Homo sapiens: one gene and its partners. The protein of the gene in region 4 purifies or fractionates together with the protein of the main gene of each other region. This does not show direct contact. Each region holds a gene or a part of one and is shown on either strand. Other genes may lie near its edges.

Region 1 (6,851 bases), on a different chromosome or scaffold from region 4:
TGTTTTGTTAATTACAAAACACAGAAAATACTGAATAGTTAACATAAAGTAAAAGGCCATGAGACAGCCTTGGAGCTCTATAGGGTAATGGAAAGACAGAATTTTAAAGGAAAAAACAAGTAGACAGAGCAGATGTTCTTCAGATGTCCCACGAGCGAGAAAAGGAGTCACATATCTCTAGCACTGCTTAGATTCCTTATAGTTTTCCAGTACTAGATGCATATAGGATAGGAATGGTTCATTCATTTGAAATACATTTACTAAGAGCTTGTAAATGTTTAATATATGTGATCGATTAAATTGTAATAGAAAAATATTCACTTCCTCTTTGTCACCTCCAAGGAAGGAGTTGTATTTCCCTGCCCCTTGAATTTGGCCTTTGCCAAATATCTTACTTTGGCCAATAGGAAATAAACACATGATGTGAGCAGGGGTTTAAAATGTGTCTCTGTGGTTGGGCTTGCTCTTATACCTCTGCTATCACCATGAGGACTTCAGCCCACTAGTCCAAAGATTAGAGACATATGGACCACATGTGCATCATAGAGATACCCAGATGACTACAGCCTATGTCGGTCAGCTCCCAGGTGGCCCCCAGATGCACCAACAAAATAAATACTAACTGTTGTATGCCACTGTGATGTTGCGGTTCTTACTTAGCAATAGCTTACTGATAAAATACACTAAGGACTAGGTGCTATGCGCCACTTAAAGACTGTCCTTACTCTCAGGCTTTCCACAGACACTGAACAACATCTACTAAAAATCAATTAACCAGGCCCTGTGCTAGGTGCAGAGGATGTAAATTAATAAAACATCACCTTTTCCCAGGGTGAATGCCCATTCTAGTAAGAAAAAGAGACCCTGATCACATGATCATAAAATAATATAAAGGGCTCATTGGTAGAGTTGGCTGAGGGTCTAACTTAGCCCAGAGGCATTAGGGGTGGCTTCACAGAAGAGTAGTTTGAAATGGAAGTGTGAAGAATGAACAATCATTCACCAAGTAGAGAAGATAAAAAGACTATAAGCAGGCAGATATATACCAAAAGTTTCGATGTCAGAACGTGTGGGGACTTCATGTAACAGCCACAGCTGAAACTTGTCACTGTTTTCATTTAGACCGCAATTTAGAATGAACATAAGTGCTGTAGTTTTTACTATACTGAGAATCACTGAAAGCCAGGTATCATGGCATACCCCTGTAATTCCAACTACTCAGGAGGCTGAGGTGGGAGGATTGCTTGAGCCCAGGAGTTACCTGCCTGGGCAACAAGCAAGACTCTATCTTATTTAAAAAAAAAAAAAAAAAAAAAAGGAAGGGTGGGGGCGGTGGGCGTGGCAGGCATGGTGGCTGATACCTGTAATCCCAGCACTTCGGGAGGCGAGGCAAGTGAATCACCTGAGGTCAGGAGTTTGAGACCAGCCTGGCCAACATGGCGAAACTCCGTCTCTACTAAAAACACAAAAATTAGCTGGGCGTAATGGCGAGCACCTGTAATCCCAGCTATTCGGAAGGCTGAGTACGGGAGAATTGCTTGAACCAGGGAGGCGGAGGCTGCAGTGAGCCGAGATTGCGCCATTGCACTCACGTCTGGGCAACACAGTAAGGCTCTGTATCGAAAAAAAAAAAAAAAAAAGAAGGGGGTTGCCGGGCACGGTGGCTCATGCCTGTAATCCCAGTACTTTGGGAAGCCGAGGTGGGTGGATCACCTGAGGTGGGGAGTTCGAGACCAGCTTGACAAACATGGAGAAACCCCGTCTCTACTTAAAAAAAAAAAAAATTAGCCAGGCGTGGTGGTGCATGCCTGTAATCCCAGCTACTGGGGAGACTGAGGAAGGAGAATCATTTGAACCCTAGAGGCGGAGGTTGTGGTGAGCGGAGATGGCAGCCATTGCAGTCCAGCCTGGGCAACAAGAGGGAAACTCCATTTCAAAAAAAAAGGAGGGGGGAAGGGGGGTTGAGTCCACTCTCCCCAGCTCACGCCAGATCTCATTTCAGTGGTCACTATTAAAAAAAATTAGATATTTACTTTATTATAGATACTTCCTATGATGATCTGTGAGGACATGCATTTTCTTATCCTGTAATACCATTTGTAACAATAGCAAAACCAGATCATTACTGGTCTGGAAAGACTGTCAATGTATCAGCAAATAAATCTTAATTAACTCTGATGATCTACTTAACTCATAACTCTAAAAGCACTAAAAGACCACTGTATGAAAAGGTGACTCAAGGCAACTGCAAACAAAGTGATCCCCAAAATACTAAAAGCACAATCTCAAGTAAAGTGGCAATAGCTGGGAAACTCTTTTCCAAACACAACTGTCAGAAATGGAAAAATGTCCTCCTGAGTAAAGTTTTCGGCAGAAAACTTCAGGCAGAGGCATAACACTGCTATGCAAAAACAATAACCAGACTTCACTTCAAGAAGTGAGCGAAGAATGTGAGTGATCATAAATCAGAACTTCCGTCAAGCTTGCACGAGTGGAGTTGTAAGTAACAGCAGAAACTTTGAAGTACCAGAAGATACCATCATTCAAAAACGAACACACTTTGACTAGCCCACCTTGGACACGGAGAATCTCGCTGATCACTACAAACTACAAGATAATCATTTAACTTTGAGACCTCAGTGAGAGAGGGTATCAGCTTTTCCTACTCCTTGCACGCTCCGCTGTACGGAAGATGCCGAGGGAACGCATGCCGTGTCTCAGTCCCGGCATAGTCAACCACGCTGGGCAAAAGACGGGGCCAGAGGGTGCAGACGAATATCGGTAACTCGAACCAGGCTGGGAGTTAAGCTAGAAGAAACTGGGGAAGGAGGCAAAACAGAAGCAGGAAAAGAGCAGTGGGGAGCGGCGGGCGCACCAGAGACTGGCGAGAAGGGGAAAAGTCCCCCAGACGCACAAAAATGTCTAGAAGGGGTTCTTCTACTTCGATCTGAGTTTCCCAGGAGCTCAGCCTTGGCTGTCCCGCTCCCCACCCAACCCCACATGATTCCTCCTCTTGGATGGGACGCTTAGGTGAAGCGAGGGGGAGCTTCGCAGGTGGCTCCCGGCAAACTGAGAAGGGTCTCCCAGAGCTGCCAAGAGGAAAGAACTGCGAACAGTCGCTCCCCCGGTACGTGAGAGAGGAGTGACCAGAGGCAAAGGTGAGGCGAGCAGGTTCTCCCTTACCTGCCGCAGGAGCTTCCACCGGGCGGCTCCCAGGGGCGCCGAGACTACGGGCCCCCGAGTGGTGCAGCCAACTGCCGGACTCCCGCCCGCTGCTCGCGCGGTCTCGCCGGTCCCAGCGTCCGCGACTCGCGACTCCATCTCACTGGAGCCTTCCACACCCGGAGGTGCCACCGCCGCAGCTCGTCCCCTGCCAGGACCTGCCAACTTCTTCCCTGTCAGGACCTGTGACGCCCGGCACCCTCCCTCCACCGGACCAGGCATGCGCGCTCTCCCCGAATTCCGCATTTCCGGTACTCGCATCTCCTTGGCAACCAGGGCCGAGCTGTCACGCCATTGCACCATTCTTGCTGGTAGCCATCTTGAGTGAGGGCGGACCAGAGGATGAGAGAGCTGTGGCAGGGCTACTGGAACGCTGTCCCTCATTGTTTTAGCCTTCTGTGCTTCATCTCGAGCTCAGAAGACTAGCGAAGAACGAAAAGTCTTATATATTTCGAGACTAAAGAACCCAGGAACCCAAGAAGACTCCTTGACCACAACAAAGATGGCGAAATCTGCCTGTTGCTCGTGCTAGATTGAGGTTACGTAGATTGGCGTGCTGCAAACCAGCTCTAGGCGGCTCTGGGTAAGTTGTCGTTCTGTGGGCTGCGGAACGCAGACTTCGGCTGGACTTGCCTGCGGTGACACCTGCTCCCCTCTGAGAGCTTCAGGTTCTCCGGCCTGCCTTCACTGGTTTGTGTCCAGAGCCGGACTGATTCTCTCAATTTGCGTATGTATGGGGGGTGTGCTGGTCTCTTTCCTTCTCCCCTTTCTCCCCCCGCCCAGCCACCCACCCCTCAGTCCCCAGGTCCTCGCTTTTTGACTAATGTCCCGGCACTGCGTGCGTGTCACCTGGTCCCTCTCCCTGTTGCATTCAGATCGCCTCATCCCTGGGGTGGAGAGTTGCACGGGGTAAACGAATAGGTTCTCCTGAGAACACCCATTTATCTACCCCACCCCCATCCTAGCCTTGCATACTGTCTTCTTGGGGATGAAAGATGGATGGATAAAGGCTGTGGGAACGTGGTGATGTAGGACCTTTGCAGGTCCTTGTTATTCGGGTCTTTTTTCCCCTTTTTTTACTAGTGTCGGCTAGTAAACTAGTGTTGCTCCCCTACCCCCAATCGCCCATTATTTTGCTGCGACATGGAAAGGGATTAAGGGGGGCGGGGGCGTCGTAGCGCATCTGATCTATGGTAAATTTGACGCAGCATTCTACCTTTGATACCAGGGGGCATTTTGTGGAAGACTTCCATAATGACATTCAGCGGTGTGCAACATACCTAGATTATTCCTGTCGTAAATAATAGCAACTGCCATTTATTGAGTGGTCACTATGTGCCAGGCACTGTATGGTCTTAATGTTAAGCTGTCTCATTTTGTCTTTACAACAACAACCCTAGAAGGTAAATGGTGTCATTTCATTTTTGCAGATGAAGAAACTGAGGCCCGGAGACACAGTTAAGTGTAGGAGCTAAGACCTCAACCCAGGTCTCTCTGACTCTTAACTACTTATTAGCAATCAAGGTTAATAAAAGCTACCTCCTGACAAACCAGAGATGGCCTTACATTTTATTTGTGCATCTTGCAGGGGTTTTTTGTTGTTTTTAATTAAAGCGCTAAATACCTTTTTAACATTAAAAATCCGAAGTTGAGTATGTCCAGTATTTGGAACCGAACCAAATTGGATTTTTTGCTATACAGCTTACTGTACAAGTGACCTGGAACAGTTGCTTAGAACCTCCCACAGCCACAGTTTGGCAACCTGTAAAATGTGCATGGTAATATCTACTTTATTAAGTCCATATAAAATTTAAATTAGACAAACAAGATAAAAGCACCTGGCAGTTAGTTAACACTCAACAATAATTAATCTTCCCTCCCCCACCTTTATTAAATAATTAGGCTTTTCCAGTTTATCTTCCACATATATACCAAAGATACGTTCATAATTATGTAAGACCAAAGGGCTTTTTACCTTTTACAGCCCTGAGTTCCTGAGATACCCCATTAAGTCTGTGTACTTATTTGCAAATTTATATTTTGTTTCTTGTTTTGTTTTTTGTTTTAGTTTAACCCCTATGTGTGCCAGAGTCAGTGCTGCATAGTTTGAGCCTGATAGGATTAACTTTACAAATGAGACATTTAAGTCACATCTGCCAAGAATTATGATTTGAATGAAACTTTAACTTACACAGGTTTTTAGATTTAGTTAGCCTAAGTTATCAGCTGTCTGAAGTTATTCATAACCTAAGTGGGGCATGGCCCTGAAAAGGAGGGATGAGAACTGCTGATCTTAGTTACTCTGAGAACCCACTACTCTGTAATCATACCTATAAAATCATTCGTGTGCTGGCAGCCCCAAAAGGAGCATAAACCAGGGACTTTGATATCATGCAGCAGAAGACCAAATTATTTCTCCAAGCTTTGAAGTATAGTATTCCTCACCTTGGAAAATGCATGCAGAAACAGCATTTGAATCACTATAACTTCGCTGATCATTGTTACAATAGAATAAAATTGAAAAAATATCACCTAACCAAGTGTCTTCAGAATAAACCCAAGATATCAGAGTTAGCAAGAAACATCCCAAGTCGGAGCTTCTCATGTAAGGTATGGACTGTTTAAGTTAACCTATTTGTAGGTCATTAAGATTAATTTTAATTTAAAAATAAAGAATGGGTAGAATATCAGAGCTACTAATTTTCTCAGTAATTCTAACTTGATTTTTCTAATTTTCAAGTCTCAATTGTCTCTAGTCAAAAGTAAGTATAAAAGAGTATATACATCGAGGCAGGCAGATCACCTGAGGTCAGGAGTTCGAGACCAGCCTGGCCAACATGGTAAAACCCTGTCTCTACTAAAAATACAAAAGTTAGCTAGGCGTCATGGCACCCACCTGTAATCCCAGCTACTTGGGAGGCTGAGGCAGAGAATCTCTTGAACCCAGGAGGCAGAGGTTGCGGTGAGCTGAGATCGCACCACAGCACTCCAGCCTGGGTGACAGGGAGACTCTGTCTGAAAAAAAAAAAAAAAAAAAAAGTGTATACATATATTTATAGGGCTCTAATGTAATATATAAAAATGTAGGTTTATAAAAAATGATTCACCTCAGGACTTCCTTAGTATGCCTGCCAGTGCATTTCAAAGTATAATTCGGCCTTCTAAATTTCCTAGAACACTAAATTATAGCTCTTAATAAAATCTAATGATACGCTAATTGTTTTATGAATCACAAATCAGTAAACTTCAGTAAAGGCCATGAATTGTATTTTATTTCTCTGTAAAAAAATGAAAAATAATCTTGCGTTTTTGACCACTTGAGTCATTCAGGAAGACACTGTCAGAGTATTGTACTTCTGCCAGACCCCAAGCTGTGGGCGTGAACTCAACCTTAAGGACCTGATTGCCCTTATATAGAGAGTAACCACATAACCACTTTTGCCTGGCACAGCTCCAGCCTACACCTGTTGTCCCTGTGTAATTATTAATAGTGTCCCCTTTCCTCTCAAAAGTGTCCTGGTTAGAATGGTAAATTATATGGTCATCCTACAGTAAGTAGGATTAAATGATCTATTTGTGCTGCTGCTGCTTTGACATCCCTCTCCTACCTTTTACTTCTTATGTTCCTT
Region 2 (7,024 bases), on a different chromosome or scaffold from region 4:
TTGAGTGCTTGCAGTCAAGCAGAATGTACCTCCTGCAGAGACAAATCTTCTGCATGAGATTACTGATGCTTCACTTGCACTCTAAGCTGGAATCCAAACTCTGGTTTGTCTCTTGAAAATTTGACTCTATAAAACTGATCTGATTTTCTGTTTTTAAAAATAAATATATTTTTGGAAAAAAAAAATATCTGGCTTCCCAAATAAAACTTTATAAGTGAATCTCATCTCTAGCTATCTCCTAGGATGAATGGAGATATAACAGTTGTCTTCAAGGGTGAAGAGAAACATTTTTACATAGGAATAACCTAATCGTATACCTTTGGTCGGAGCTCTAAAGAATTAGGAAGAATGTGAAAGACTGGCTGGCTTTGTGGGCTACTATCTCTCTCTAGCTTTTAGAGTTTGGTTTTTCAGAATATTTCCAATCATCTTGCACCTGCTCCATAAAAACATTCCCAAGTGCCACCCCATTTAAAATGTCATTATCATACCTGTACAGGTAATAACAATGTCCACTTGTCGGATGACCTCATTTAATTTCACCAGTCGAAATCCATCCATACTGTTGAAATAAAGCATGACCCATTAACCTAAACAGGCAGCTGGGGAGCCTTTTAACACAGGACTTCAAAAGCTAATATCAAGTTGCTGTCATTTCTTGAGATAGCTGAACTATTCTTAGAAGTGAAAAATCCAAACAATTTCCTTAGTTCATACAAGACAGAAATAAAAGGTTCGTTTGCATCACGGAACTTATTTCTTCCTGATAATAGGGAGCCAGGGGCTACCATGAGATTCCCTGACCAAATTTCTAGAAACTGTAGAAAGTGCCACTTAGCCATTTAACCAACTACCCCATTGAAACTGCTCTCTCCAAGATCATCAGTGATCCCCCGAAGGCCAAACCCAAGATTTCTTAGACTCTTAACTGTGTGTGTTTTTTTTTTTTTAGAGATGGGATCTCACTATGCTGCCCAGGCTGGAGTGCAGTAGCTAGTCACAGGCATAATCATAGTGCACTACAGCCTCTAACTCTTGGCCTCAAGCAATCCTCCTGCCTCAGCCTCCTGAGTAGCCAGGACTATTGGCATACACCACCATGCCCAACTTCTTAGACTCTTATATTATTTGATTTCTTCTACTACATTAAACATTATTTGCCTTCTTAAAACTCTATACCCCTTGGACTCCATGATACATCTCTCCTGGTTTTCCTCTTACTTCTCTTAATTGCCTCTCCTCAACTTCAGCCAACCTTTGGATATTGGTGCTCTGCAGGGTTATGCCTTTATTCTTTTCTCTATTCTTTCAGTATAGAGAACCATACTCTTCCTTTGGCTGCAAATGACTGCTGATAGATGGCTGATTTTTACATTTGTAACTTTAGCTTAGATCTCTCTGAAGCTTCATAGCCAAGGATCAAATTAGCCACTGGATAGCACCTCATCAATGTCCCAGAAGGATCTCAAACTTACTGTGTTTGAAAATAAACTTATTATTTTCTCTGCACCCATAATCTCATCTATTTCTTCTTCTATATTTTCTATCTTGATCAATAGCATCACTGTTCATCCAACTGAATGAGCCATATAAACAAGAATGTCCTTGCTGCCTCTCCTGAATTGAAGTTGTCACCAAATCTGGGTGACTCTTTTTCTTTAATTCCATAAACGTCTCTTTCATCTCTCTACTCTTCTCTAATACATACTGGCCTTGCTTAAGTTTAGGTCTTATTACTTCTTGCCTAGATTACTATAGTAACCCCTGGCCCAATCTCATTGCCTCTAGGTTTACATCTTTCTAAATCATTTGGCAGAGTGATTTTCCTAAATGCAATTTGGATCATGTCGCTTCCTTTCCTTAAAATACTTCAGTGAGACTGCCTGTTCTTAAGGATAAGACAGGATAAGAGTAAGACCCAAATACTTACAGTGATATGTGATTATATTGACATATGACTCCCATGACTCCTACCTTAGATAGTACCACTCCCCCAAATGTATTTCATCTGCCAACTACATTAAAATATTTCTAGCTTCTTAAATCTGCCATGCTATCTCCTTCCTTGGAGACAACACACATGTTCCCAGTACCTGGAATATACTTCCAAACTAAGAAAACACCTATACAAATGTCAAGACTCAGCTCTGCTGACATCTCTTTCTACCCTGCTCCCTTGCTCTTCAGTAAGCAATTTCTCCTTTATGCTCCTACAGAAGCATGTGCCGTTTAACTCCATGACAGCACTTACTTTGCTGCACAGTGGTTATCTGTCTGTGTGCTTCTAAAAGCAGGACCTTATCTCATTTATATATTCATCTTATTCATTCTCAGCACATAGCACAGTATCTAATGCATAGTAAGTGATCAATTCGTGTCTACAGGATAATCTGAACAGGATAATCTGAACTGTTCAGTATCTGAACAGTATCAATTTGTATTAAAATATGTTCAGGTTCCTAAACTCTTAGTGTACCAGAAGGATGATGGTTCCCCTAGGCTACAGACACTTGGACTCTGCAATAGTTTTTAAGAACAGTGGTATTTCCCACCCTGCTGAGGATGGCAAGAGACAATTTTAATAACAGCTATTATTTAATGAGCATATATTATGTGGCAGCAGCTCTGTACCTTATATAATTATGTATTTGTTATATAATGTATAATATAGAATAATAATTATTTTGAGACATGGTCTTGCTGGGTCACCCAGGCTGGAGCGTAGTGGCATAATCACAACTCACTGCAGCCTCCACCTCCCAGGCTTAGGTGATACTCATACTTCAGCCTCCCAAGTAGCTGGGACCACAGGCATGCACCACCACACCCAGCTAATTTAAAAAAATTATTTGTAGAGATGGGGTCTCCCTATGTTGCCAAGGCTGGTCTCGAACTCCTGGGCGCAAGCAATCCTCCTGCCTCAGCCTCCCAAAGTGCTGGGATTACAGGCATGAACCCATTACACCCAGCCTATGCTAATTATTATTTTACTGAACTCTCACAATCCTATGAGGTAGGTATGATTACACACATTTTATAGATAAGAAAAGTTTTAACTTTTAATTTTAGAATCATTTCAAACTTAAGAATTATAATACTAGTGTAAATAATTCTCATATATGCTTCACTCAGAGTTAGTAGATTTTACCCTTAACTGGGATTGGTCTAATGTTTCCTCACAATTAGATTCAGGTTATACATTTTTGGGAGGAATACCACAGAAGGGCTATTTTCAGTGTAACACATCAGAAGGCATCTGATGCCTGCCAATTTCTTTTCTGATCATTATTTGAAAGGCAAGTATCATACATGGAGAAGGTAAGGGGCTACCTGTTCTCTGGCTGACAGAATCCCTGTTACTATCTCCACAGGATTTCTAAATTTTCGCTTTTCTGATAGTCTCTGCTCTCTCCAAGCAGAGCTCCTTGACCTTTTTAAAAGACAGATGCTTAGAGTTAGTGGCAGCATCTCTGAGGATCTGGGCTCCTCTAAAATAAAGTGTGGCATCAACCAGGCCATTCTTTGGAGACAGCTCCGAGATTGCAAGTGAGATGGTAGCGTAGAGGCTTACCAGGCTTGCAGGGCACAGATGGGGTCAATTTCAGTTACATACACAATGGAGCCCATGGCTTTCAGGGCAGCACAGCACCCTTTCCCCACCTGAAGAGGGGAGAGAGCACACATATTAAGGAAAGTCACTGAGAAAACCATTTCTCAAAGCTTCTGGTAAAGTGCACCCCCTCTTTCCACCCCCGAGAGGAATTTCACTGAATAGATTCATACTTGGGGAAAACGAGAAGAACAAATAATTGAATGCAGCTCATAAACAAACCCCTGGCTCCTGCTTATCGCATTCATGTGCACAAGAACACCCACACTCACGATTCATAATTAAAACACAAGCTAAAAAGAACATCACAAACGGTGGTACTGGAGCAAGTCAGAAAATCAACTTAAGGGAAAATGGCGGCAACGCAAAGGGAAAAAGAAAGTCTACTTCAACCAGAAGGCCTCTGAAATTCTTTTTCTCATCTAAAGTGGTAAAGGGTGTACTCATATGTCCATACAAATAAAAAATTCCAGAATATTTCAACAAAATCCATTTAAAACACCTAATAAACAAAAGGTTAAACTTCACCTCTCCATAGCCACAGACTACCACTTGCTTTCCACCAAACATCATGTCTGTTGTCCTTTTAAGTCTAGGGGAAAAAAAAACATTAAATCAGAAAAATCTTCTCTTGTTTCTCCCTTGAGGTTAGATTGAATCTCTTTGTTTTCATGGGGTTTTTTGGTTGGTTTTTCATTTTGAAAGAAAGTCTGGTTTCTTTATTTTTTTAAAGGGGTTTTCTGGTAAAGACCAGAAAACCTGCTAGACAAATTCTAAAAGACCTGTAACACTGAAAGTCTGGTTTCTATCCTAGAGAAACTAATGACCAGACAGGAAGGTTAAATAAAATACATATTTTCTCACTCCCTGCCATCTAACCAATCCTATATGTAAGGGTTTTTTTCCTTTTTTTTTCCCCTTTCTTGCAAGTGGTGCAGAAAGGAAGAAGATGTAGATAACACAGTAACTTTTAAACATAAAAGCAACATACATTTATTAGATAATATTTTGAAAATATAATATTTAGAAATAGAAAAGATACAAAGGAGAAAATAAAAATAATGTAATTTTAATTTATGAGGTGACAAAGCTCTGGCTTTATGGAGACATTATCCAGAGGTGCTACATGAATCCTTTCCAGAAATAACCAAAGCCAAAAAACTTAGAATCTCAACTGGACATCACAACTTCATCTCAAAGATAATAAACATTACCCATCAAGAATTGATTCACGGCAACAGTAGAGGTTGTCAAATTTCTGTTTGGTGACTGAGTCATTGACATTCATGGCTGGAACACACAGCTTCCCAGCTTTGGACAGTTGGTACAGCCTGAGGATGAGGGAAGCCAAGAACAAAAAACACCAGGACATTACAATCTACCATTGCTTTCATAGGAGGCCCCAGAAATACGTTGATTGGGTAGGCATGAGACCATGAGACATGACTAGTTTCATCCTGTTAGGTGGCCACTGAGAAATAAAGAATATCTTTCTAGAGCCTGCATATATAGCTTCACAATAAAGATTTTATTCAAAAGTCATGTGGGGGAAATCCTTGACCCACCTCTAAATTTTAAGGCCTTCACTGGAGACTATAAAAAGTGGGAGAGTGGGAGCGGGTTGAAGGTTGAAAAATTACCTACTAGGTACAATGTTCACTAAATCTGCACTGGTCTCCCTGCCTGCCAGAACTACAAGTGCATGAGACTACGCCTGGCTGTTTGTGCTTTTATTGTTTGTTTGTTTGTTTTGAGATGGAGTCTCACTCTTGTTGTCCCCGCTGGAGAGCAATGGTGTGATCTCAGCTTACTGCAACCTCTGCCTCCAGGGTTCAAGCGATTTTTGTGCTTCAGACTCCTGAGTAGCTGGGATTATAGGCGCCCGCCACCACACTCAGCTAATTTTTGTATTTTTAGTAGAGACGGGGTTTCACCACGTTGGCCAGGCTGGTCTTGAACTCCTGACCTCAGTTTTGTACATTCAAAAAGATGATAATGTATTGAAGCAGTGATGGTGGCTGGTTCAGAATTTACTTCCCTACAACTTTTTTTTTTCATACTTTTAGTTCTTTATGGGTGAAATAAATCATAGAAATGATCACAGAAATTGAACTGAAATAATTCCAATTTTACTCAGAGAATTATTACTCATTTGAGAAGCAGAACCCTACATCCTTGCTCTCCATGTAAGAATGTAAGCTCTAAGATGGCAGAGTTTTTTTCTGTCTGTTTTGTCTACTGCTAGATTCCTAGCATCTAGAGCAGTTCCTCATTCATTGTAGAAGTTCAATAAATATTTGTTGAATGAATGAATGAATATATGTGTCCAAAAAGGACAAGTTAATTGTTTACAATCACTAGAAAACATGAGGACTTCACTTGTTCTCCCACCTGCCCCCTTCTCACTATTTTAGGTTCATTATTTGTGTTGTTAATTAAAAAAAAAAAACAAGAGAGATCTGCTCACCTCATAGCAAGCTGAGATCTGGTCACCTCATAGCAAGCTGAGATGTGGTTACCTCATAGCAGGCTCCAATTTTTTTTTTTTTTTTTTTTTTTTTTTTTTTGAGATGGAGTCTCGCTCTGTCACCCAGGCTGGAGTGCAGTGGCATGATCTCTGCTCACTGCAAGCTCCGCCTCCTGGGTTCATGCCATTCTCCTCCCTCAGCCTCCCGAGTAGCTGGGACCACAGGCGCCCACCACACCAGGCTAATTTTTTTGTATTTTTAGTAGAGACGGGGTTTCACCGTGTTAGCCAGGATGGTCTTGATCTCCTGACCTCGTGATCCGCCCACCTCAGCCTCCCAAAGTGCTGGGATTACAGGCGTGAGCCACCGCGCCTGGCCCAGGCTCCAATTTTTAACATGTGTTTTATAGGTATGTGTTTATAAGATTTTATGTCTAGACTGCATAAAACCAGGTATGCCCATGTCAAATCTTACCTGTGAACTCCAGTAACACTCTCCTCTACTATGCCCTTGATTTTCTTAAACATGTTGGGATACTTTTTATAAATCCAGTGGGTAAGATCCCCTCCATCATCCAAGATCTGCAATAGTAAGCATCAATAACATCATTCACTTTGCTGAAGTCTCAAGGCTTCAGTGCTTCTCTGGGTCTTGCATCCCAATCTAATTAGCAATTTACAGATATTTAAAATTTCCCATATGGTTATGCAAAGTAACTTAAAGCCAGAGTAAATACAATAATCTGCCAAATAGTCATTATATTGAAGTAAAAGACAATGAGAGGAGAAAGGCCAATTGTAATTCGCGCAGCCAAACGACCCTCCCCGTGACATATCTACTGTATCAAAATATACAGCAACTAACCGAGGATTTTCTTATGGATTGGTAACTTGTAGTTACTAGGCCACTAGATCTTGAATCTACTATAGGTATTCAGAAAGCCTAA
Region 3 (7,024 bases), on a different chromosome or scaffold from region 4:
CTTCAGGAATACCTGGAACTATACAGAAACCAAGCTCACAGCAGGCAGTGGGCTGCTGGCCAGGTATGGCCATGGCCCGGGGGGATAGTCACTACAAGGGGCATCAGCGACCTCTACCAGCCCCACTGCTTCAGATAGGAAGACAGAGGCTCAGATAAGCTGAGGGACCTCCCCTCACCACCCAGGTACTAAGAGGCACTCCCCGGAATTCAGCACAGATCCGACACTCTCTCCAGTGGTTTTACGCTCAAGGGTGCTGGATTCCTTTAATTTTTACTTTTAATTTTACTTCAGCTAGCCTGAGCTGGGTTTCTGTCACACACACTCGGTGAGCCTAACACACCAGGCCCAGTCCCTCCCTACAGCGGCTCCCACCGTGGCACCCACCATGCTGCGTCACGGCAGGCGCACAAGCCACCCATTCCCACCCTCACTCCCTACCCACAAGCAGCCCCGGTTTTCATCCCTGCATTCCCAGGGTCTAGCACAAAGCCAGACAGAGCAGGTTCCAATGAATGTTTGCCAAAGACTGCCCAGACTCCCCCGTCGTCTCTAACGTAAAACCTGTGCCTAAAGCCTGGCAGACCAGGACTCCAGGTGAACTTCTGGACAACCCAGCACACTCCACAGAGCCCTGGGTTAACTTTACCTTTGCATCGGTGTTGATATATTTATTGAATCTCTTGAATGCATCAACGTTGAACTTCATCAGCTCCCCCAGGAGGTCAAAGTAACTCTGGAGCACATCCCTTGACTTACACTCGCTGTCCACAATGCAGTAAAGGATGTGCTGGGTGAGGAGGGACAGGGTGAAGGTGTCAACGTGGCTGCCCCCACCAGGGCCTGGCATGGAGCTCAGACCATGCATTGGCTTTGAGCAAGCATCCTGGGGATGGAACTGGCAACACTGTCTAGATTCTTGTCTGAGGATGCTGGTGGCTCCAAGGACAGGACCAGGCCTGACAGACCTCACCAGGAGGTGGAGCAGACTGGGAATGCAGCACAATCTCTCCCCTGCCCAGGGCGTACAGCTGAAGCCTGTGACCTGCTCTGTGGTCACCAAGATGGCCGGGGTGCTCAGCTCCTAGGTGAGGGGAGCTGTCATCACCAGGTCTAAAACACAGGCCACTGCCTAAGCACTGAGGTCATTCAAGTAAATGAAGGACAGAATTTAAAAGCAAAGGACACATTTTGACCCCATGGTTTGTCTTTGTGTTTATGAACGAAATTGTTTAAATAGAGTTTACACCAAAATACTGAGTTTTCATCAAGAGAATAAAGCCAATTTACTCCTTTATAAAGTTTTCTACATTTTCTTGAAGTTACATTGATTTGGATCAATTCTTTTCCACATGGATTTTATAATTCGTGGGTCAGTTTCTTGTCCATATGAAAAAATCTGAAAGACCAATTATAACTTTGGCCATTCTGCTCTAAGTTTTACTTTTTCTGAAGACCATTATTCAATAAAGGAAAATTAACTTTTAGTACAAAATATCTTCAGGGTCAAAATGCCTTGCTGGGTAACCAAACTGTCACCCTCCTGCATGGCCTGGCCACCCTCTAAACCTGTCACCCCGTAAGCACCCATGGGGAACCCACAGTTGGAAACCCAGGGCAAAATCTAAGGCAGCCTGCACAGGCATTTGGAAGTCACGAGATCTGCTCTGCTCCTGATGAACTGTTTGGGGCTCAGGACAGGACACAGCAACGCGTGGGCTGGGGGGAGACGGAACCCAAGACACTGGCTGCTCCAGATCATACCTCCAAGAGGCCTCGCTTCAGCAGGAACATCTGGTCTGCATAGGAGGTGGTCCCTCGGAGGAAACTCTCCACAGCCCGAGCTTGCCAAAACCTGCGACCCAAATACTGGCTCAGGTGGCTAAGGCTGCCCTCTTCCGGCCCATGTTCAGTTCTCCAAGGGGTTGGGAGATGTTTGTTGCCTTTTCATGTACTCAACATTTACTGAACATCTACCAAGCATCAGGCTTCATCCTGGGCCTGGGGACACAGCAGTGCCCCCATCCTCACAGAGAGCCAGCTCAGTGGAGAAGTCTTCTATCTGGGTCTGTCTGGAAGGGGCTGTGTCACAGAAAGGGTAACATCTGGGATCGAAGGGCTGGCTCCTGCGAGCCCCCGTGAAACATACTCTAGGCCTTGCCCTTTCACAAGAATGGGAGGACGTGCAATTGAGGGGCCAGGAATGTGTGTGGGAAGCGGACGAACACATGCAGACAGGCCACTGGGCTCACAGACGATGGGCTGGCCTAGGGAAGTAGTGGTTGATGCTGACCGAGGGACCCAGAGGGCACAGCGGGTATCCACGACAGGGAGTTTGGACAAGGCACTGAAGTGACAAAGGCCCATGTGGGCATGAAGCCTCCTGACAGCTCACGCCCGGCCCTGATGGAACTCTACCTGTCCACTGACTTCAAGACTCATCTTAGATGTATCTAAGGACCTCAGAGAAGGTCTCCCTGTATTCACCCAGCCCCCAGCCCTAGCAGCGGAAGAGGCTTTCCTTTGCTGCTATAGCTCCTGGGCCAACCCTGGCTCCATTCCTTCCCACACTGCATTGAAACAGCACAGCTCTAGGGAATTCATGGCAGGGCCCGTATCCTAGTTCTCTCCCACCCATAAGGCACCAGCACAGAACAGGTGCTTGGTGAATGCTCGGTCACTGTGGGCTGCAGAAGAAGCTCTCACATACCTGTCGAGTCAAAACTACACAAGATGGCAGTCAAACCACCTCTCCCCAACAGTAATTGTGCTTCAGGAGGCATGGACGCTGGTGACTAAAGGAGGTATTCCTAACCTCCTGAGAAACACCTGGCTCTGCAGCCCCGCAGAATCGGCAGGTACTTTTCCCCAGACTCACCTGAAAGACGACTCTGCTGGCTCCTTCTTCATGACCTGCAGCAGACGAGTTAATAAGCCCCTCTTCCCATCACACACCAAACTCCTGAAATAGAAGAGAGATATTGGTGACAGATCTGAGAGGCTGACAGGGGCCCTGGGGATGGGTCATTCTGCTGGCTTAGGCGGTGAAAAACCATGGGGACATTTCCAAGTCTGCAGGATGCCTTCCTGCTCCAACTGGGTCCAGAGCCCCGGAGACCCCTGCAGCCACAGAATTAAACTGCCAAGTGCATTCCCACCACATCTCAGGCCAGCTTTCCTTCCCAGGCCAGAAACATATCCAGAATCAGACATGGCTTAGAACTGCCAGAGGAGAGCTGTTTATACCAAAAGTGTGTTGAAACAGGTCATGCCAGTCTGCCAGATGGGGAAAGACTCTGCCAATAGGGTGAGGCCCAGCGTACTCCGTGCCTGAGGTTCACTTCCAGCTGGCCTTGGGCAAGTGTCCACAACTCCAAGCCTCAGCTTCCCAGTCTATGAAGCAAAGGCAGGAGATGAGGAAATGACTCTGGCCCCGTCATGGGGGAAGGAAGACGGCCAGGCACGCAGGGGTCTGGGCCCTTCAAACAGAGCAGCTCTGCTGTGATCCACTGCAGACATCAGGGCAGGACTGGGTACAATTTTATTTGAATGAAGAGTTCTGCTACCTTAGAAAAAAAAGATTGGGAGGCCAGGAGAGGTGGTTCACACCTGTAATCCCTGGACTTTGGGAGGCTCACTTGAGGCCAGGAGTTCGAGACCAGCCTGGGCAACATAGTGAGACCCCATCTCTACAAAAAAAAAGTAAAAACACTAGCTGGGAATGGTGGCGCACACCTGTAGTCCCAGCTACTCGGGCGGCTGAGGCAGGAGAATCACTTGAGCTCAGAAGTTTGTGGCTGCAGTGAGCTATAACACCACTGCTCTGCAGCCTGAGAGAAAGAGCAAGACCTTGTGTCTAAAAAACAAAACAAAACAAACAAACAAAAAAGGTTGGGAAATCATGGCTCTTGTTGGATAAAGTCCACTGTATTCTGACGCCTGTGAGACTAGCCCCCCACTGCCTGGCTCCAGGTGAGGCAAACCTAACCCAGGTAATGCAACCTAACACTTGGCAGCAGGTAAGAGGCTTCTGTCTGTCCTGCTTGGCTGCAGATGCCACCAGGCAAGAAAGGAGCACATAAGCAAAGGGGCTGAATGCACGAGACAAGGCGGTGGGGCAGTGCGGAGCACACATGACTTCTGGCAGGTGACCTCTCTGAGGCTCACCTCATCTGTCAAGTGCAGGTACTGATGGGGCTCCCCTCCTAGGGCTGCTGTGAGGCTCCAATGAGAAAATGCAGGTGACATGAATACAATGCCTGGCACACAGGAGCCCTCAGGACACTGTAGCTGCATGTGAGAGAGGACACGCGTGCATACCTGGATGTGCTCACCGGTGAGCCCCCGGGGAACGTGGGCAGCCGGGATGGGCTGAGGGAAAAGCTGCACCCCTGCACTCACCTGTCGGTGTTGAGGACAGCTTCCACCTCAGGGATGTTGGCCTTGAGAGAGATGGCACTGAGTTCATTCAGCTCCTGGTTGTTGAGTAACAAGTACTTGTTCCTGAAACAAAATGGGTTGGAGGAGGTAAAGGACAGGAACTGGGGCTGCTGGGTCAGCACCAGGCTAGTGTAGGGAGTCTCCTGCCCACTTCCTGTGGACAGAATCTGAGAAGCCACCAGGCACTTTCCTCTAGCACCTCTCACTCCAGCCAGCACCTGCAGGAGGGAACTCTGGGCTCTCAGGCAGTGGAATCTCTCCCTGGCCCCACCCCCATCCCCGACCCCTGCCTGCCACATTCATCGACAAGGCCCCTTCCCTCAGCAGCTCTGGGCCTTTCTCTTTGCCTACATTTCCACTTGTTTTCTCAAAGGCACCAACACCTCAACAGGTCCAATCACACTCAAGCCTGGCCCTGCTGCAGCAGTCCCACCAAGCACCACGGTCACACATCACACAGAGGCCTGGTTAACTGTGACACTTCCCCCGACTTGCCATCCAGGCCTGTCACTGCTGGGTCCTGTGTTCCCAGGACACCAGCTCCCTTTACTAAAAGGTATCCCACAGGAACTGAGTCATCACACGGTGCCAAAAGTGATCTTCAGAATCAGGACTCTGATCCTGTCACTCCCGGTGAAAACACTTCCACAGCTTCCCACTGCATTTAGAACAGACATTTCCTGACTTAGGAGGAGGTTATGTCCTGATAAACCCATCGTATTTGAAAATGCCGTTAAGTTGAAAACATATTGAGGCCGGGCGCGGTGGTTCACGTCTGTAATCCCAGCACTTTGGAAGGTCCAGGCGGGTGGATCACGAGGTCAGGAGTTCGAGACCAGCCTGGCCAACGTGGCGAAACCCCATCTCTACTAAAAATATAAAAAATTAGCTGGGCGTGGTGGCACACGCCTATAATCCTAGCTACTCAGGAGGCTGAGGTAGAATTGCTTGAACCCAGAAGGTGGAGGTTGCAGTGAGCCAAGATCATGCCACTGCACTCCAGCCTGGGCAATAGAGCAAGATTCCGTCTTGAAAAAAAGAAAAAGAAAGAAAACACATTTAATATATCTAACCCACTGAACCTCCTAGCTTAGCCTAGCCTACCTGGAATGTGCTCAGAACACTGACTTCAGCCTACAGTTGGCCATAATCACTGGCAACACGGCAGGCACAGCACAGAGTACTGGTTGTCTACCTTGGTGATCGTGTAGCTGGTCACCATTTTTCTTGAAATACATTCTGAGCTGCAGCTGCAGCTCAGTGCCCAGCATTGCAAGAGTATTGAACTGTTTATCATGAGCCCAGGAAAAGATCAAAATTCAAAATTCTACTTCTGTACCATTGTGAAGTTGAAAAATTCTAAGTGGACCATCTGTATATAAAATCCAGGCCTGTGACTGTGACCCACAACACCCTGTGACTGTGACCCACAACGTCCTGTGCAGCCCAGCCCAGAGCCAAGCCCACATCACTCCCATCAGCTGGCCACAATGGTCTTCCCTCGTTCAGGGGCTTCTGGCTAGAACACACACCCTCTCACATGCCTGTTCACTCAATTCACTACAAGCTGACACTTCAGGTCTTGGCTGGCAAGCCACTTCTGCAGGGGAGAGTTCCTGAGTGTCCTCTGGCCAGTCCTGGACCCTGTCAAATGTCTCTCACAGACCCCGTTCCTCTCCTCCTGAATACCATCTCCACTTATCACTAATGCTCAACGGTGGAATCCTTGGATGAACAACTGTCTCTGTTTTCAGACTCTGCCCTTCATGAGAGCAGGGGCCATGGCTGTTTGCATTCATCCTGATATCCCACAGAGTACTCAGACTGAAGAGTCTGATGAAAGCCAGAGACTCACTTCCTCAGGGAAAACAGCACAGTTCCATAACATATGTGGTGCCATTTTTCAGAAGGTTAACATGCTTCCTGGAGCCCTTCTATGGCTTTCAGCCGGAAAACCTCTCACAGAGGATGGGTGCATATGATGGAGGTGCCCTGGGGCCACAGCTGTCTCCAGGCATGTTCTGTTAGCTCAAATGCAAGGTTTTTAAAATATTTAAACCAACATTTAAAATCAGGACCTTTCACATAAATCTTAATTTCTGCCTTTGCTTGGCAGAAAAAATCAGAAGTTATGCAACAGTGGGCCCAGTTTCCTGTGCACACGCAGCTGGCTGGAGCTGAGCTCACTGAAATTCTTGTTCACTAAGGTCCCCACATCACCTCCCCAATGCCAAGGTCAAGGGTCAGCTGCTAGTCACCCCCTTCCTGCACTGTTTTCCTTACAGCAGAGAGTAATTTTCCTTGTACATTCTCCATCGAAGGTTAAAAAATAAATGAGCGCAGAATGTCTTTCAAGAAAAATGGGAGCACACCTCCTTGTGGAGGGAAGAATCCTCCAGCTGCTCAGTAAGCAGTCGGCTTTGCCTGTCTGAAGTTCCTGCCGGCCCCTGGGAATAGCCACGCTGTCCACTCTTGCTTTAGAGGGGCAGTAGGTTGAGAAATCCATTGATTCCAAAGGTAGTAAGGGGCCAACGACTTCCATACTCAGTTCCTGGGGTGGCTATGAGGGTTAGAAGAAAGCTTG
Region 4 (7,024 bases):
AACAAATAGCCGGGCACGGTGGCTCACTGTCATCCCACACTTTGGGAAGCCAAGGCAGGCAGATCACGAGGTCAGGAGTTTGAGACCGGCCCGGCCAGCGTGATGAAACGCCATCTCTACTAAAAATACAAAAACTAGCTGGGCGTGGTGGCGCCCGCCTGTAGTCCCAGCTACTTGGGTGGCTGAGGCAGGAGAATTGCTTGAACCTGGGAGGCGGAGGTTGCGGCGAGCCGAGATCGTACCATTGCAGTCCAACCTGGGCGACAGAGCGAGACTCGGTCTGCGGCGTGGGGGAACCTGTGAGCAGCAGGTCATGTGGTTTGCCACCACAGATAGGGCACAAGGTTCCGTGTGAGGCCCCTCAGTCAGGACGGCATCTGGGAGGGAGCCCCACGGAGGCTTCACGGCAACGCCAGCATGGAGGGAGCCGGCACTCACCTAGGGGGCTGTAGGATGAGGCTGCAGAGCCCAGTGTGCCCGGCTCTGAACGCAGGGGTGGCGGCTGCTGGGGAGGCGTCATGGCTGAGGAGCCCACCGGCCCTGGGAGGGGCTGGGACAGCGAACCGAGCGGCGAGGTGGACGCAGAGGATGGCGAGTGTAGCGATGGTGCTCTGGGCAGGGAGCCGGGGATGGCGACAGGTGCAGAGCCGGCCAGCGACCTGGGACCTGGCGGGGGCGGACCAGTCAGCGAAGGGAGTACCGCCAGGCCTCTGCCCAAACATCTGCCATGGGCGGCAGCCGTGGAAGACGGACCCTGCAGGTGGTGGTGGTGGGGATATGGGGGGTGGGAATATAGGGGCCAGGCCAGCCACCACCATCTATGTGTTTGGAGCCACAGCGCCCCCGGTGGCCATGTCCAACACAGCTGGGCAAGCCATGGGCTCAAAGGGATTCCAACCAGAGGTGGGGAGACGGGGGTTTAACATGGGCCCCCCCCAAAGAGGCCGGACACCCACCAGGCCCTGCCGGCCAACTAAGCCATTGGCACGGTCCTCCCAGCACTTGTCCAGGCCCCCTGAAATGGTTTACTTTCTTTTAAAAGAAAGAAAAGATACACTTTTAGGCTGAATGAAAAGATGTTGTATACGATGTTAAGATACATTTGTATGGGGCCGGGCGCACTGGCTCACGCCTGTAATCCCAGCACTTTGGGAGGCCAAGGCGGGCAGATCACGGGGTCAGGAGATGGAGACCATCCTGGCTAACATGGTGAAACCCCGTCTCTATTAAAAATACAAAAAATTAGCTGGGCGTGGTGGCGGGCACCTGTAGTCCCAGCTACTCCGGAGGCTGAGGCAGGAGAATGGCGTGAACCCGGGAGGTGGAGCTTGCAGTGAGCGGAGATCGCGCCACTGCACTCCAGCCTGGGCGACAGAGCGAGGCTCTGTCTCAAAAAAAAAAAAAAAAAAAAAGATACATTTGTATGGATGTCAATCTTTTGTCTACAATGTGAATACATTTATCCTTCGGGGACCATCAAGACTTTCAGGAAAGGCCCCGCCTGTCTCTGCGCGGCCACTTTGCTGGGACAAAGGTCAACTGAAGAAGTGGGCAGGCCCGAGGCAGGAGAGATGCTGAGGAGTCCATGTGCAGGGGAGGGAAAGGGAGAGGCAGTCAGGGAGAGGAGGAGGAGGTACCGCCAGAAGGGGATCCTCCCGCTCCGAAAACCAGACACCGGGTCTTGCCCTGTGGTCCAGGCAGGAGTGCAGTGGTGCAACCTCAGCTCACTGCAGCCTTGACCTCCCCGGGCTCAAGCGATCCTCCGGCCACAGCACTTGGCTGTTCAGCGGCTGGAGGAGCAGGGCCCCAGGTCCTCCCCACCCTCACCTGCTGCTCCCAGGTCGTGGCCGTCTTGCTCTTCCAGGTCCTTCTCTAGGGATGCAATATTCACATTGCTAAGATGCAGGTCTAACGCAGAACCTGTCAACAGAGCCCCCCATCATCCACAGCCCACCCAGCGCTGCAGAGCTCAGGAAGCCTAGCTGAGGAGGACGACCGTCCCACCTGGGCTTAGAGTGAGACCAAGGGCAGAAGGCGTGGGAGTTGCTGGGGCAGCCAGGGAAGGACACCCCCAGCCCGTCCTCGCAGCCCCCCACAGGCAGTGTGAGGCTTGGCTGTTCCTCCGGCAAAACGAGCGTGCTCAGGTGGGACGCCCCGCACCACAGACCAGCAGCTGGGTCCTCGCCTCTGACACGCTGCTGCTGCCCCTCAGAGTTTAAATACCTAAGTGTGTGTTAGCATCTGTCCACGTGTGCACATTCGACTGTTTAAAAAACTTTCCAGGGCCGGGTGCGGTGGCTCACACCTGTAATCCCAGCACTTTGGGAGGCCGAGGTGGGCAGATCACAAGGTCAGGAGATCGAGACCATCCTGGCTAACACGGTGAAACCCCGTCTCAACCAAAAAAAAAAAAATACAAAAAATTAGCCAGGCGTGGTGGCGGGTGCCTGTAGTCCCAGCTACTCGGGAGGCTGAGGCGGAAGAATGGTGTGAACCCCAGAGGCGGAGCTTGCAGTGAGCCGAGATCGTGCCACTGCCCTCCAGCCTGGACGACAGAGCAAGATTCCATCTCAAAAAAAACAAAAACAAAAACAAAAAAAAAACTTTCTGTGAGGGTGATTTCAAGGAGCAGGTGTTCACGTGCAATTTCATGCCAAGCACCAAGACCTCAATTCCCAAGGCTCAAGACTGAGTGGGAAGGACCCGCCTCAGAGTGGCCTCACCCAGCCAGCCCTGCCTTCCAAGGCTGTCCCCACACATCCCTGCAGGCCGTGGGGCTGCCCTCCTGCACGGGCCCTTCCCTCCCAAGTCCCCACCCCCAACCCCGAATGGCAAGCAGGGACCCCACTGCCCCTTCCTAGAATTAGGAAGCCATCATGAGGAGGCTGAGCTCAGGCCACCAGCCCCTGAAGCCACAGCGTGTCTCAAACTCCCGCAGCCACTGCACAGAAGTTGGGTTGGGGGTGAGGGGTGACCAGAGGATCTGGGATCTGAGAGCCCACGTGCCACCTGGGGCAGACCAGAGGACCGCAGCGGCTGCAGGAGCTCTGGGATACACCCTGTGGGCCGGCGCCGCCTCCCCAGCCCAGCCCAGTGTTGTGGCCAACACCGCACAGAGACCTCAGCAGCGTGGGGCACACCGCACAGGGACTGCCGGCCTACACTGCACAGAGACCTCAGCAGCGTGGAGCACACCACACAGGGACTGCCGGCCAACACCGCACAGAGACCTCAGCAGCGTGGGGCACACCACACAGGGACTGCCGGCCAACACCGCACAGAGACCTCAGCAGCGTGGGGCACACCACACAGGGACTGCCGGCCAACACCGCAGAGACCTCAGCAGCGTGGAGCACACCACACAGGGACTGCCGGCCTACACCGCACAGAGACCTCAGCAGCATGGAACACACCACACAGGGACTGCCGGCCAACACCGCACAGAGACCTCAGCAGCATGGAACACACCGCACAGGGACTGCCGGCCAACACCGCACAGAGACCTCAGCAGCATGGAACACACCGCACAGGGACTGCCGGCCAACACCGCACAGAGACCTCAGCAGCGTGGAGCACACCGCACAGGGACTGCCGGCCAACACCGCACAGAGACCTCAGCAGCGTGGAGCACACCACACAGGGACTGCCGGCCAACACCGCACAGAGACCTCAGCAGCGTGGGGCACACCACACAGGGACTGCCGGCCAACACCGCACAGAGACCTCAGCAGCGTGGGGCACACCACACAGGGACTGCCGGCCAACACCGCACAGAGACCTCAGCAGCGTGGGGCACACCGCACAGGGACTGCCGGCCAACACCGCACAGAGACCTCAGCAGCGTGGAGCACACCGCACAGGGACTGCCGGCCAACACCGCACAGAGACCTCAGCAGCGTGGAGCACACCGCACAGGGACTGCCGGCCAACACCGCACAGAGACCTCAGCAGCGTGGAGCACACCGCACAGGGACTGCCGGCCAACACCGCACAGAGACCTCAGCAGCGTGGAGCACACCGCACAGGGACTGCCGGCCAACACCGCACAGAGACCTCAGCAGCGTGGGGCACACCGCACAGGGACTGCCGGCCTACACCGCACAGAGACCTCAGCAGCGTGGAGCACACCACACAGGGACTGCCGGCCAACACCGCACAGAGACCTCAGCAGCATGGAACACACCGCACAGGGACTGCCGGCCAACACCGCACAGAGACCTCAGCAGCGTGGAGCACACCGCACAGGGACTGCCGGCCAACACCGCACAGAGACCTCAGCAGCGTGGAGCACACCGCACAGGGACTGCCGGCCAACACCGCACAGAGACCTCAGCAGCGTGGAGCACACCGCACAGGGACTGCCGGCCAACACCGCACAGAGACCTCAGCAGCGTGGAGCACACCACACAGGGACTGCCGGCCAACACCGCACAGAGACCTCAGCAGCGTGGGGCACACCACACAGGGACTGCCGGCCAACACCGCACAGAGACCTCAGCAGCGTGGGGCACACCACACAGGGACTGTTGCGCAGGCGCCCTCCCCGCTGCCCACCTTTGGCATCCACTCTCCCATGTGCGCTGTGTGGGGTCTCTCCTGGGGGGCCCTGCCCTGTCGTCCCTGCTGGCTGCAAGTTCTTGGACCCTCACTGATGCCTGGTACTGGACAGTGTGCTGCTGAGGCCTGCTCTGAGACAGGCAAAGCCACCCCTGCCTGTCCCTGAAGGGCCCTAGACCCCCTTCCTCCTGTCCTCACCTGGGACCGATGGTCCCTCCATGGCCCCAGGCAACCGCACCCCGGGGAAACCTGTCAGACCCGACCGTGGGGGTCGGCGCGCCGGGAACCTCCACAGCCTGGCCAGCCCCTGCCTGGTGCTCGGTTCAGACAAGCTGGGGCCCAGCAGAAGCAAAGAGGCGGTCACTGCCCCACCTACCCGACATCGAGTCCCGCCCTCGCAGACCTCCTGCAGCCTCACTCCCCACAACCCACCCCACCCAGCAGGGAGCTGGCTGAGCCAGGCAGGGCTGACTCGTCAGGACTTGGTGGCCATGTCAGGGTGACAGCAGGTTCACCACACAGGGGGCATCCCAAAAAACAGCTGGAGAAACAAGGACTCGGCAGCCAAGGGGCCGCAGAGGGACAAAACCCCACTCTGCCGGGGAAGACAGCTGGGGCCTTTCCAGACATTTTCAGCATAATCAGCAGGAAAGGCAGGAGGGTGACTTCTGAAGAAGAACGCTGCCCTAGCCGCACATGAGATTTGTCGGGAACACAGCTGTGGGGCACGTGGCCTGCACCTCACCCCTCTGCCCAGGCCTCCGCTTCTCCTCCCTGGAAGCAGCTGGCACCAGTCAGCGCCACGGGGACCATGGGAGCAACCACAGGGTGGCGGGTGGCCCCTCGCCCGAGGCCTGGCGCTCGGCGGTCACACCCCCCGAGCCCCCCAGGGCAGCCGGAGTATCCTCGTGCCGCGGTGGTGGCCCCAGCGGAGCACAGGCAGAGGCTGGCGTGGACGTGGCGCAGCTGGCAGGTCCGGGCCTCTGAACTTCACCCCGAATCTGGCCGCGCTCAGCAGCCACACTGTGTGGAGACCGTGCTCCACCACCCAGAGCGGCAGGCGGGAGAGAAGCCTGGCTCGGGAGTGGACGGTGGACTCCAGAGGCCGCAAGGCAGAGGCCACCCCCACCCCACTCCACCGCACAGCACGACCCAGACTCAACCCTCGTCCACACGCCAGCCGTGAGGGAATTTCCGGGGCGTGGAGGCCGGGCTGTGGCGCCACCTGGCAACACTGTCCTTCCCCATCCCGTCACAGAGGCAGCAGGGCCCAGGGCAGAGAACCTGAACCCCTGGGGCGTCCGGGACGGCACACGGCGCATGCGGGAGTGGCCTCCACTCCCACGGAGACACCGTTCCAATGAAGCTTTTAGGGACTTTCGAAGGTCTTATCCAGAAACTAGAGTAACAGGTTGGGGGTCGGGGCAGCCAGGCCAAGACCCCCTGGGGACCAGGAACCCACAGTAGCATCCGAAAATGCCTCAGCCCTCAAGGATGCTCATCGGCGGAGCCAAAGGCAGGCCTTGGGCCAGCCGCACCCAGAGCCATTCACTCCTCTCCTTCCCATTCACAGGACGGTGGCGTCCCTGAGCGGACATCCACCCTGGCCTGCAGGGTGGGCCAGCCCTCCCGGTCGCTGTCATCCACTTGACGTTCTCAGGCCATGGCTGAAGAGGGCAAGACCTCAAAGCCTGACTGAAGTCGTGCTGAGCAGCAGAGCCGAGACACTGCAGGCAGTGGCAGAGGACCACGCACTGAGCGGCCTTGGACAGGTGGCTCCAAGGCTGAAAGTGAGATCTGTGGCGGGCAGGGCCTCTTCCCTCCTCCCTCCAGGGCTGGGGCGCTCCTCCTCCCTCACTCCAAGGCTGGGGCACGCTCCTCCCTCCTCCCTCCAGGGCTGGGGCGCTCCTCCTCCCTCAGTCCAAGGCTGGGGCATGCTCCTCCCTCCTCCCTCACTCCAAGGCTGGGGCATGCTCCTCCCTCCTCCCTCCAGGGCTGGGGCGCTCCTCCTCCCTCTCTCCAGGGCTGGGGCACGCTCCTCCTCCACTCTCCCTCCTCCCTCCAGGGCTGGGGCACTCCTCTTCCCTCCTCCCTCACTCTAGGGCTGGGGTGCTCCTCTTCCCTCCTCCCTCCAGGGCTGGGGCACTCCTCCTCCCTCCTCTGAGGGCTTGGGGATGCTCCTCCTCCCTCTTTCCAGGGCTGGCACACTCCTCCTCCCTCCAGGGCTGGGGTGCACTCCTCCTCCTGGCGTCCATCCTCCTTCATGGCTGGCAGCTGCGTGGCTCCAGTGTCTGCCTCTGCTCTGGGGGCCACCTCTTCCGAGTGTCTGTCCAAGTTTCTTCTTATAGGGAGACTGGTCACTGGCTCAGGGTCCCACCCTACCGGCCTCATTTTAACCTGGTTATGAGGACCCTGCAGTAGCACCCTGCGATCTGTAGCAGGGGGATACATTCCAAGACCCCCCCAT

The links.
Region 1: the proteins of UNKL (region 4) and PREPL purify together in Homo sapiens (affinity purification with mass spectrometry; 2 studies listed by BioGRID and IntAct, with this or other methods). This does not show direct contact.
Region 2: the proteins of UNKL (region 4) and AHCYL2 purify together in Homo sapiens (affinity purification with mass spectrometry; 3 studies listed by BioGRID and IntAct, with this or other methods). This does not show direct contact.
Region 3: the proteins of UNKL (region 4) and TRPC4AP purify together in Homo sapiens (affinity purification with mass spectrometry; 2 studies listed by BioGRID and IntAct, with this or other methods). This does not show direct contact.

What each region holds. Positions count from the first base shown.
Region 1 is NC_000002.12:44,358,478-44,365,328, reverse strand, and holds the start of PREPL (prolyl endopeptidase-like), read left to right. Parts: upstream 1-3,834; 5' UTR 3,835-3,949; intron 3,950-4,654; exon of another isoform or gene 4,655-5,613; coding exon of another isoform or gene 5,614-5,832; intron 5,833-6,851. Other genes in the region: CAMKMT (calmodulin-lysine N-methyltransferase), read right to left, coding at 3,184-3,321. UniProt on the Homo sapiens protein: Serine peptidase whose precise substrate specificity remains unclear. Does not cleave peptides after a arginine or lysine residue. Regulates trans-Golgi network morphology and sorting by regulating the membrane binding of the AP-1 complex.
Region 2 is NC_000007.14:129,403,014-129,410,037, reverse strand, and holds part of AHCYL2 (adenosylhomocysteinase 3), read right to left. Parts: intron 6,660-7,024; coding exon 6,553-6,659; intron 4,942-6,552; coding exon 4,825-4,941; intron 4,203-4,824; coding exon 4,139-4,202; intron 3,661-4,138; coding exon 3,572-3,660; intron 563-3,571; coding exon 492-562; intron 181-491; exon of another isoform or gene 1-180. UniProt on the Homo sapiens protein: May regulate the electrogenic sodium/bicarbonate cotransporter SLC4A4 activity and Mg(2+)-sensitivity. On the contrary of its homolog AHCYL1, does not regulate ITPR1 sensitivity to inositol 1,4,5-trisphosphate.
Region 3 is NC_000020.11:35,005,786-35,012,809, forward strand, and holds part of TRPC4AP (short transient receptor potential channel 4-associated protein), read right to left. Parts: intron 4,504-7,024; coding exon 4,402-4,503; intron 3,394-4,401; coding exon of another isoform or gene 3,381-3,393; exon of another isoform or gene 3,274-3,380; intron 2,963-3,273; coding exon 2,879-2,962; intron 2,083-2,878; coding exon of another isoform or gene 2,043-2,082; exon of another isoform or gene 1,863-2,042; intron 1,856-1,862; coding exon 1,765-1,855; intron 791-1,764; coding exon 650-790; intron 19-649; coding exon 1-18. UniProt on the Homo sapiens protein: Substrate-recognition component of a DCX (DDB1-CUL4-X-box) E3 ubiquitin-protein ligase complex required for cell cycle control.
Region 4 is NC_000016.10:1,369,692-1,376,715, forward strand, and holds part of UNKL (putative E3 ubiquitin-protein ligase UNKL), read right to left. Parts: intron 1,921-7,024; coding exon 1,828-1,920; intron 667-1,827; coding exon 439-666; exon of another isoform or gene 316-438; coding exon of another isoform or gene 243-315; intron 1-242. UniProt on the Homo sapiens protein: May participate in a protein complex showing an E3 ligase activity regulated by RAC1. Ubiquitination is directed towards itself and possibly other substrates, such as SMARCD2/BAF60b. Intrinsic E3 ligase activity has not been proven.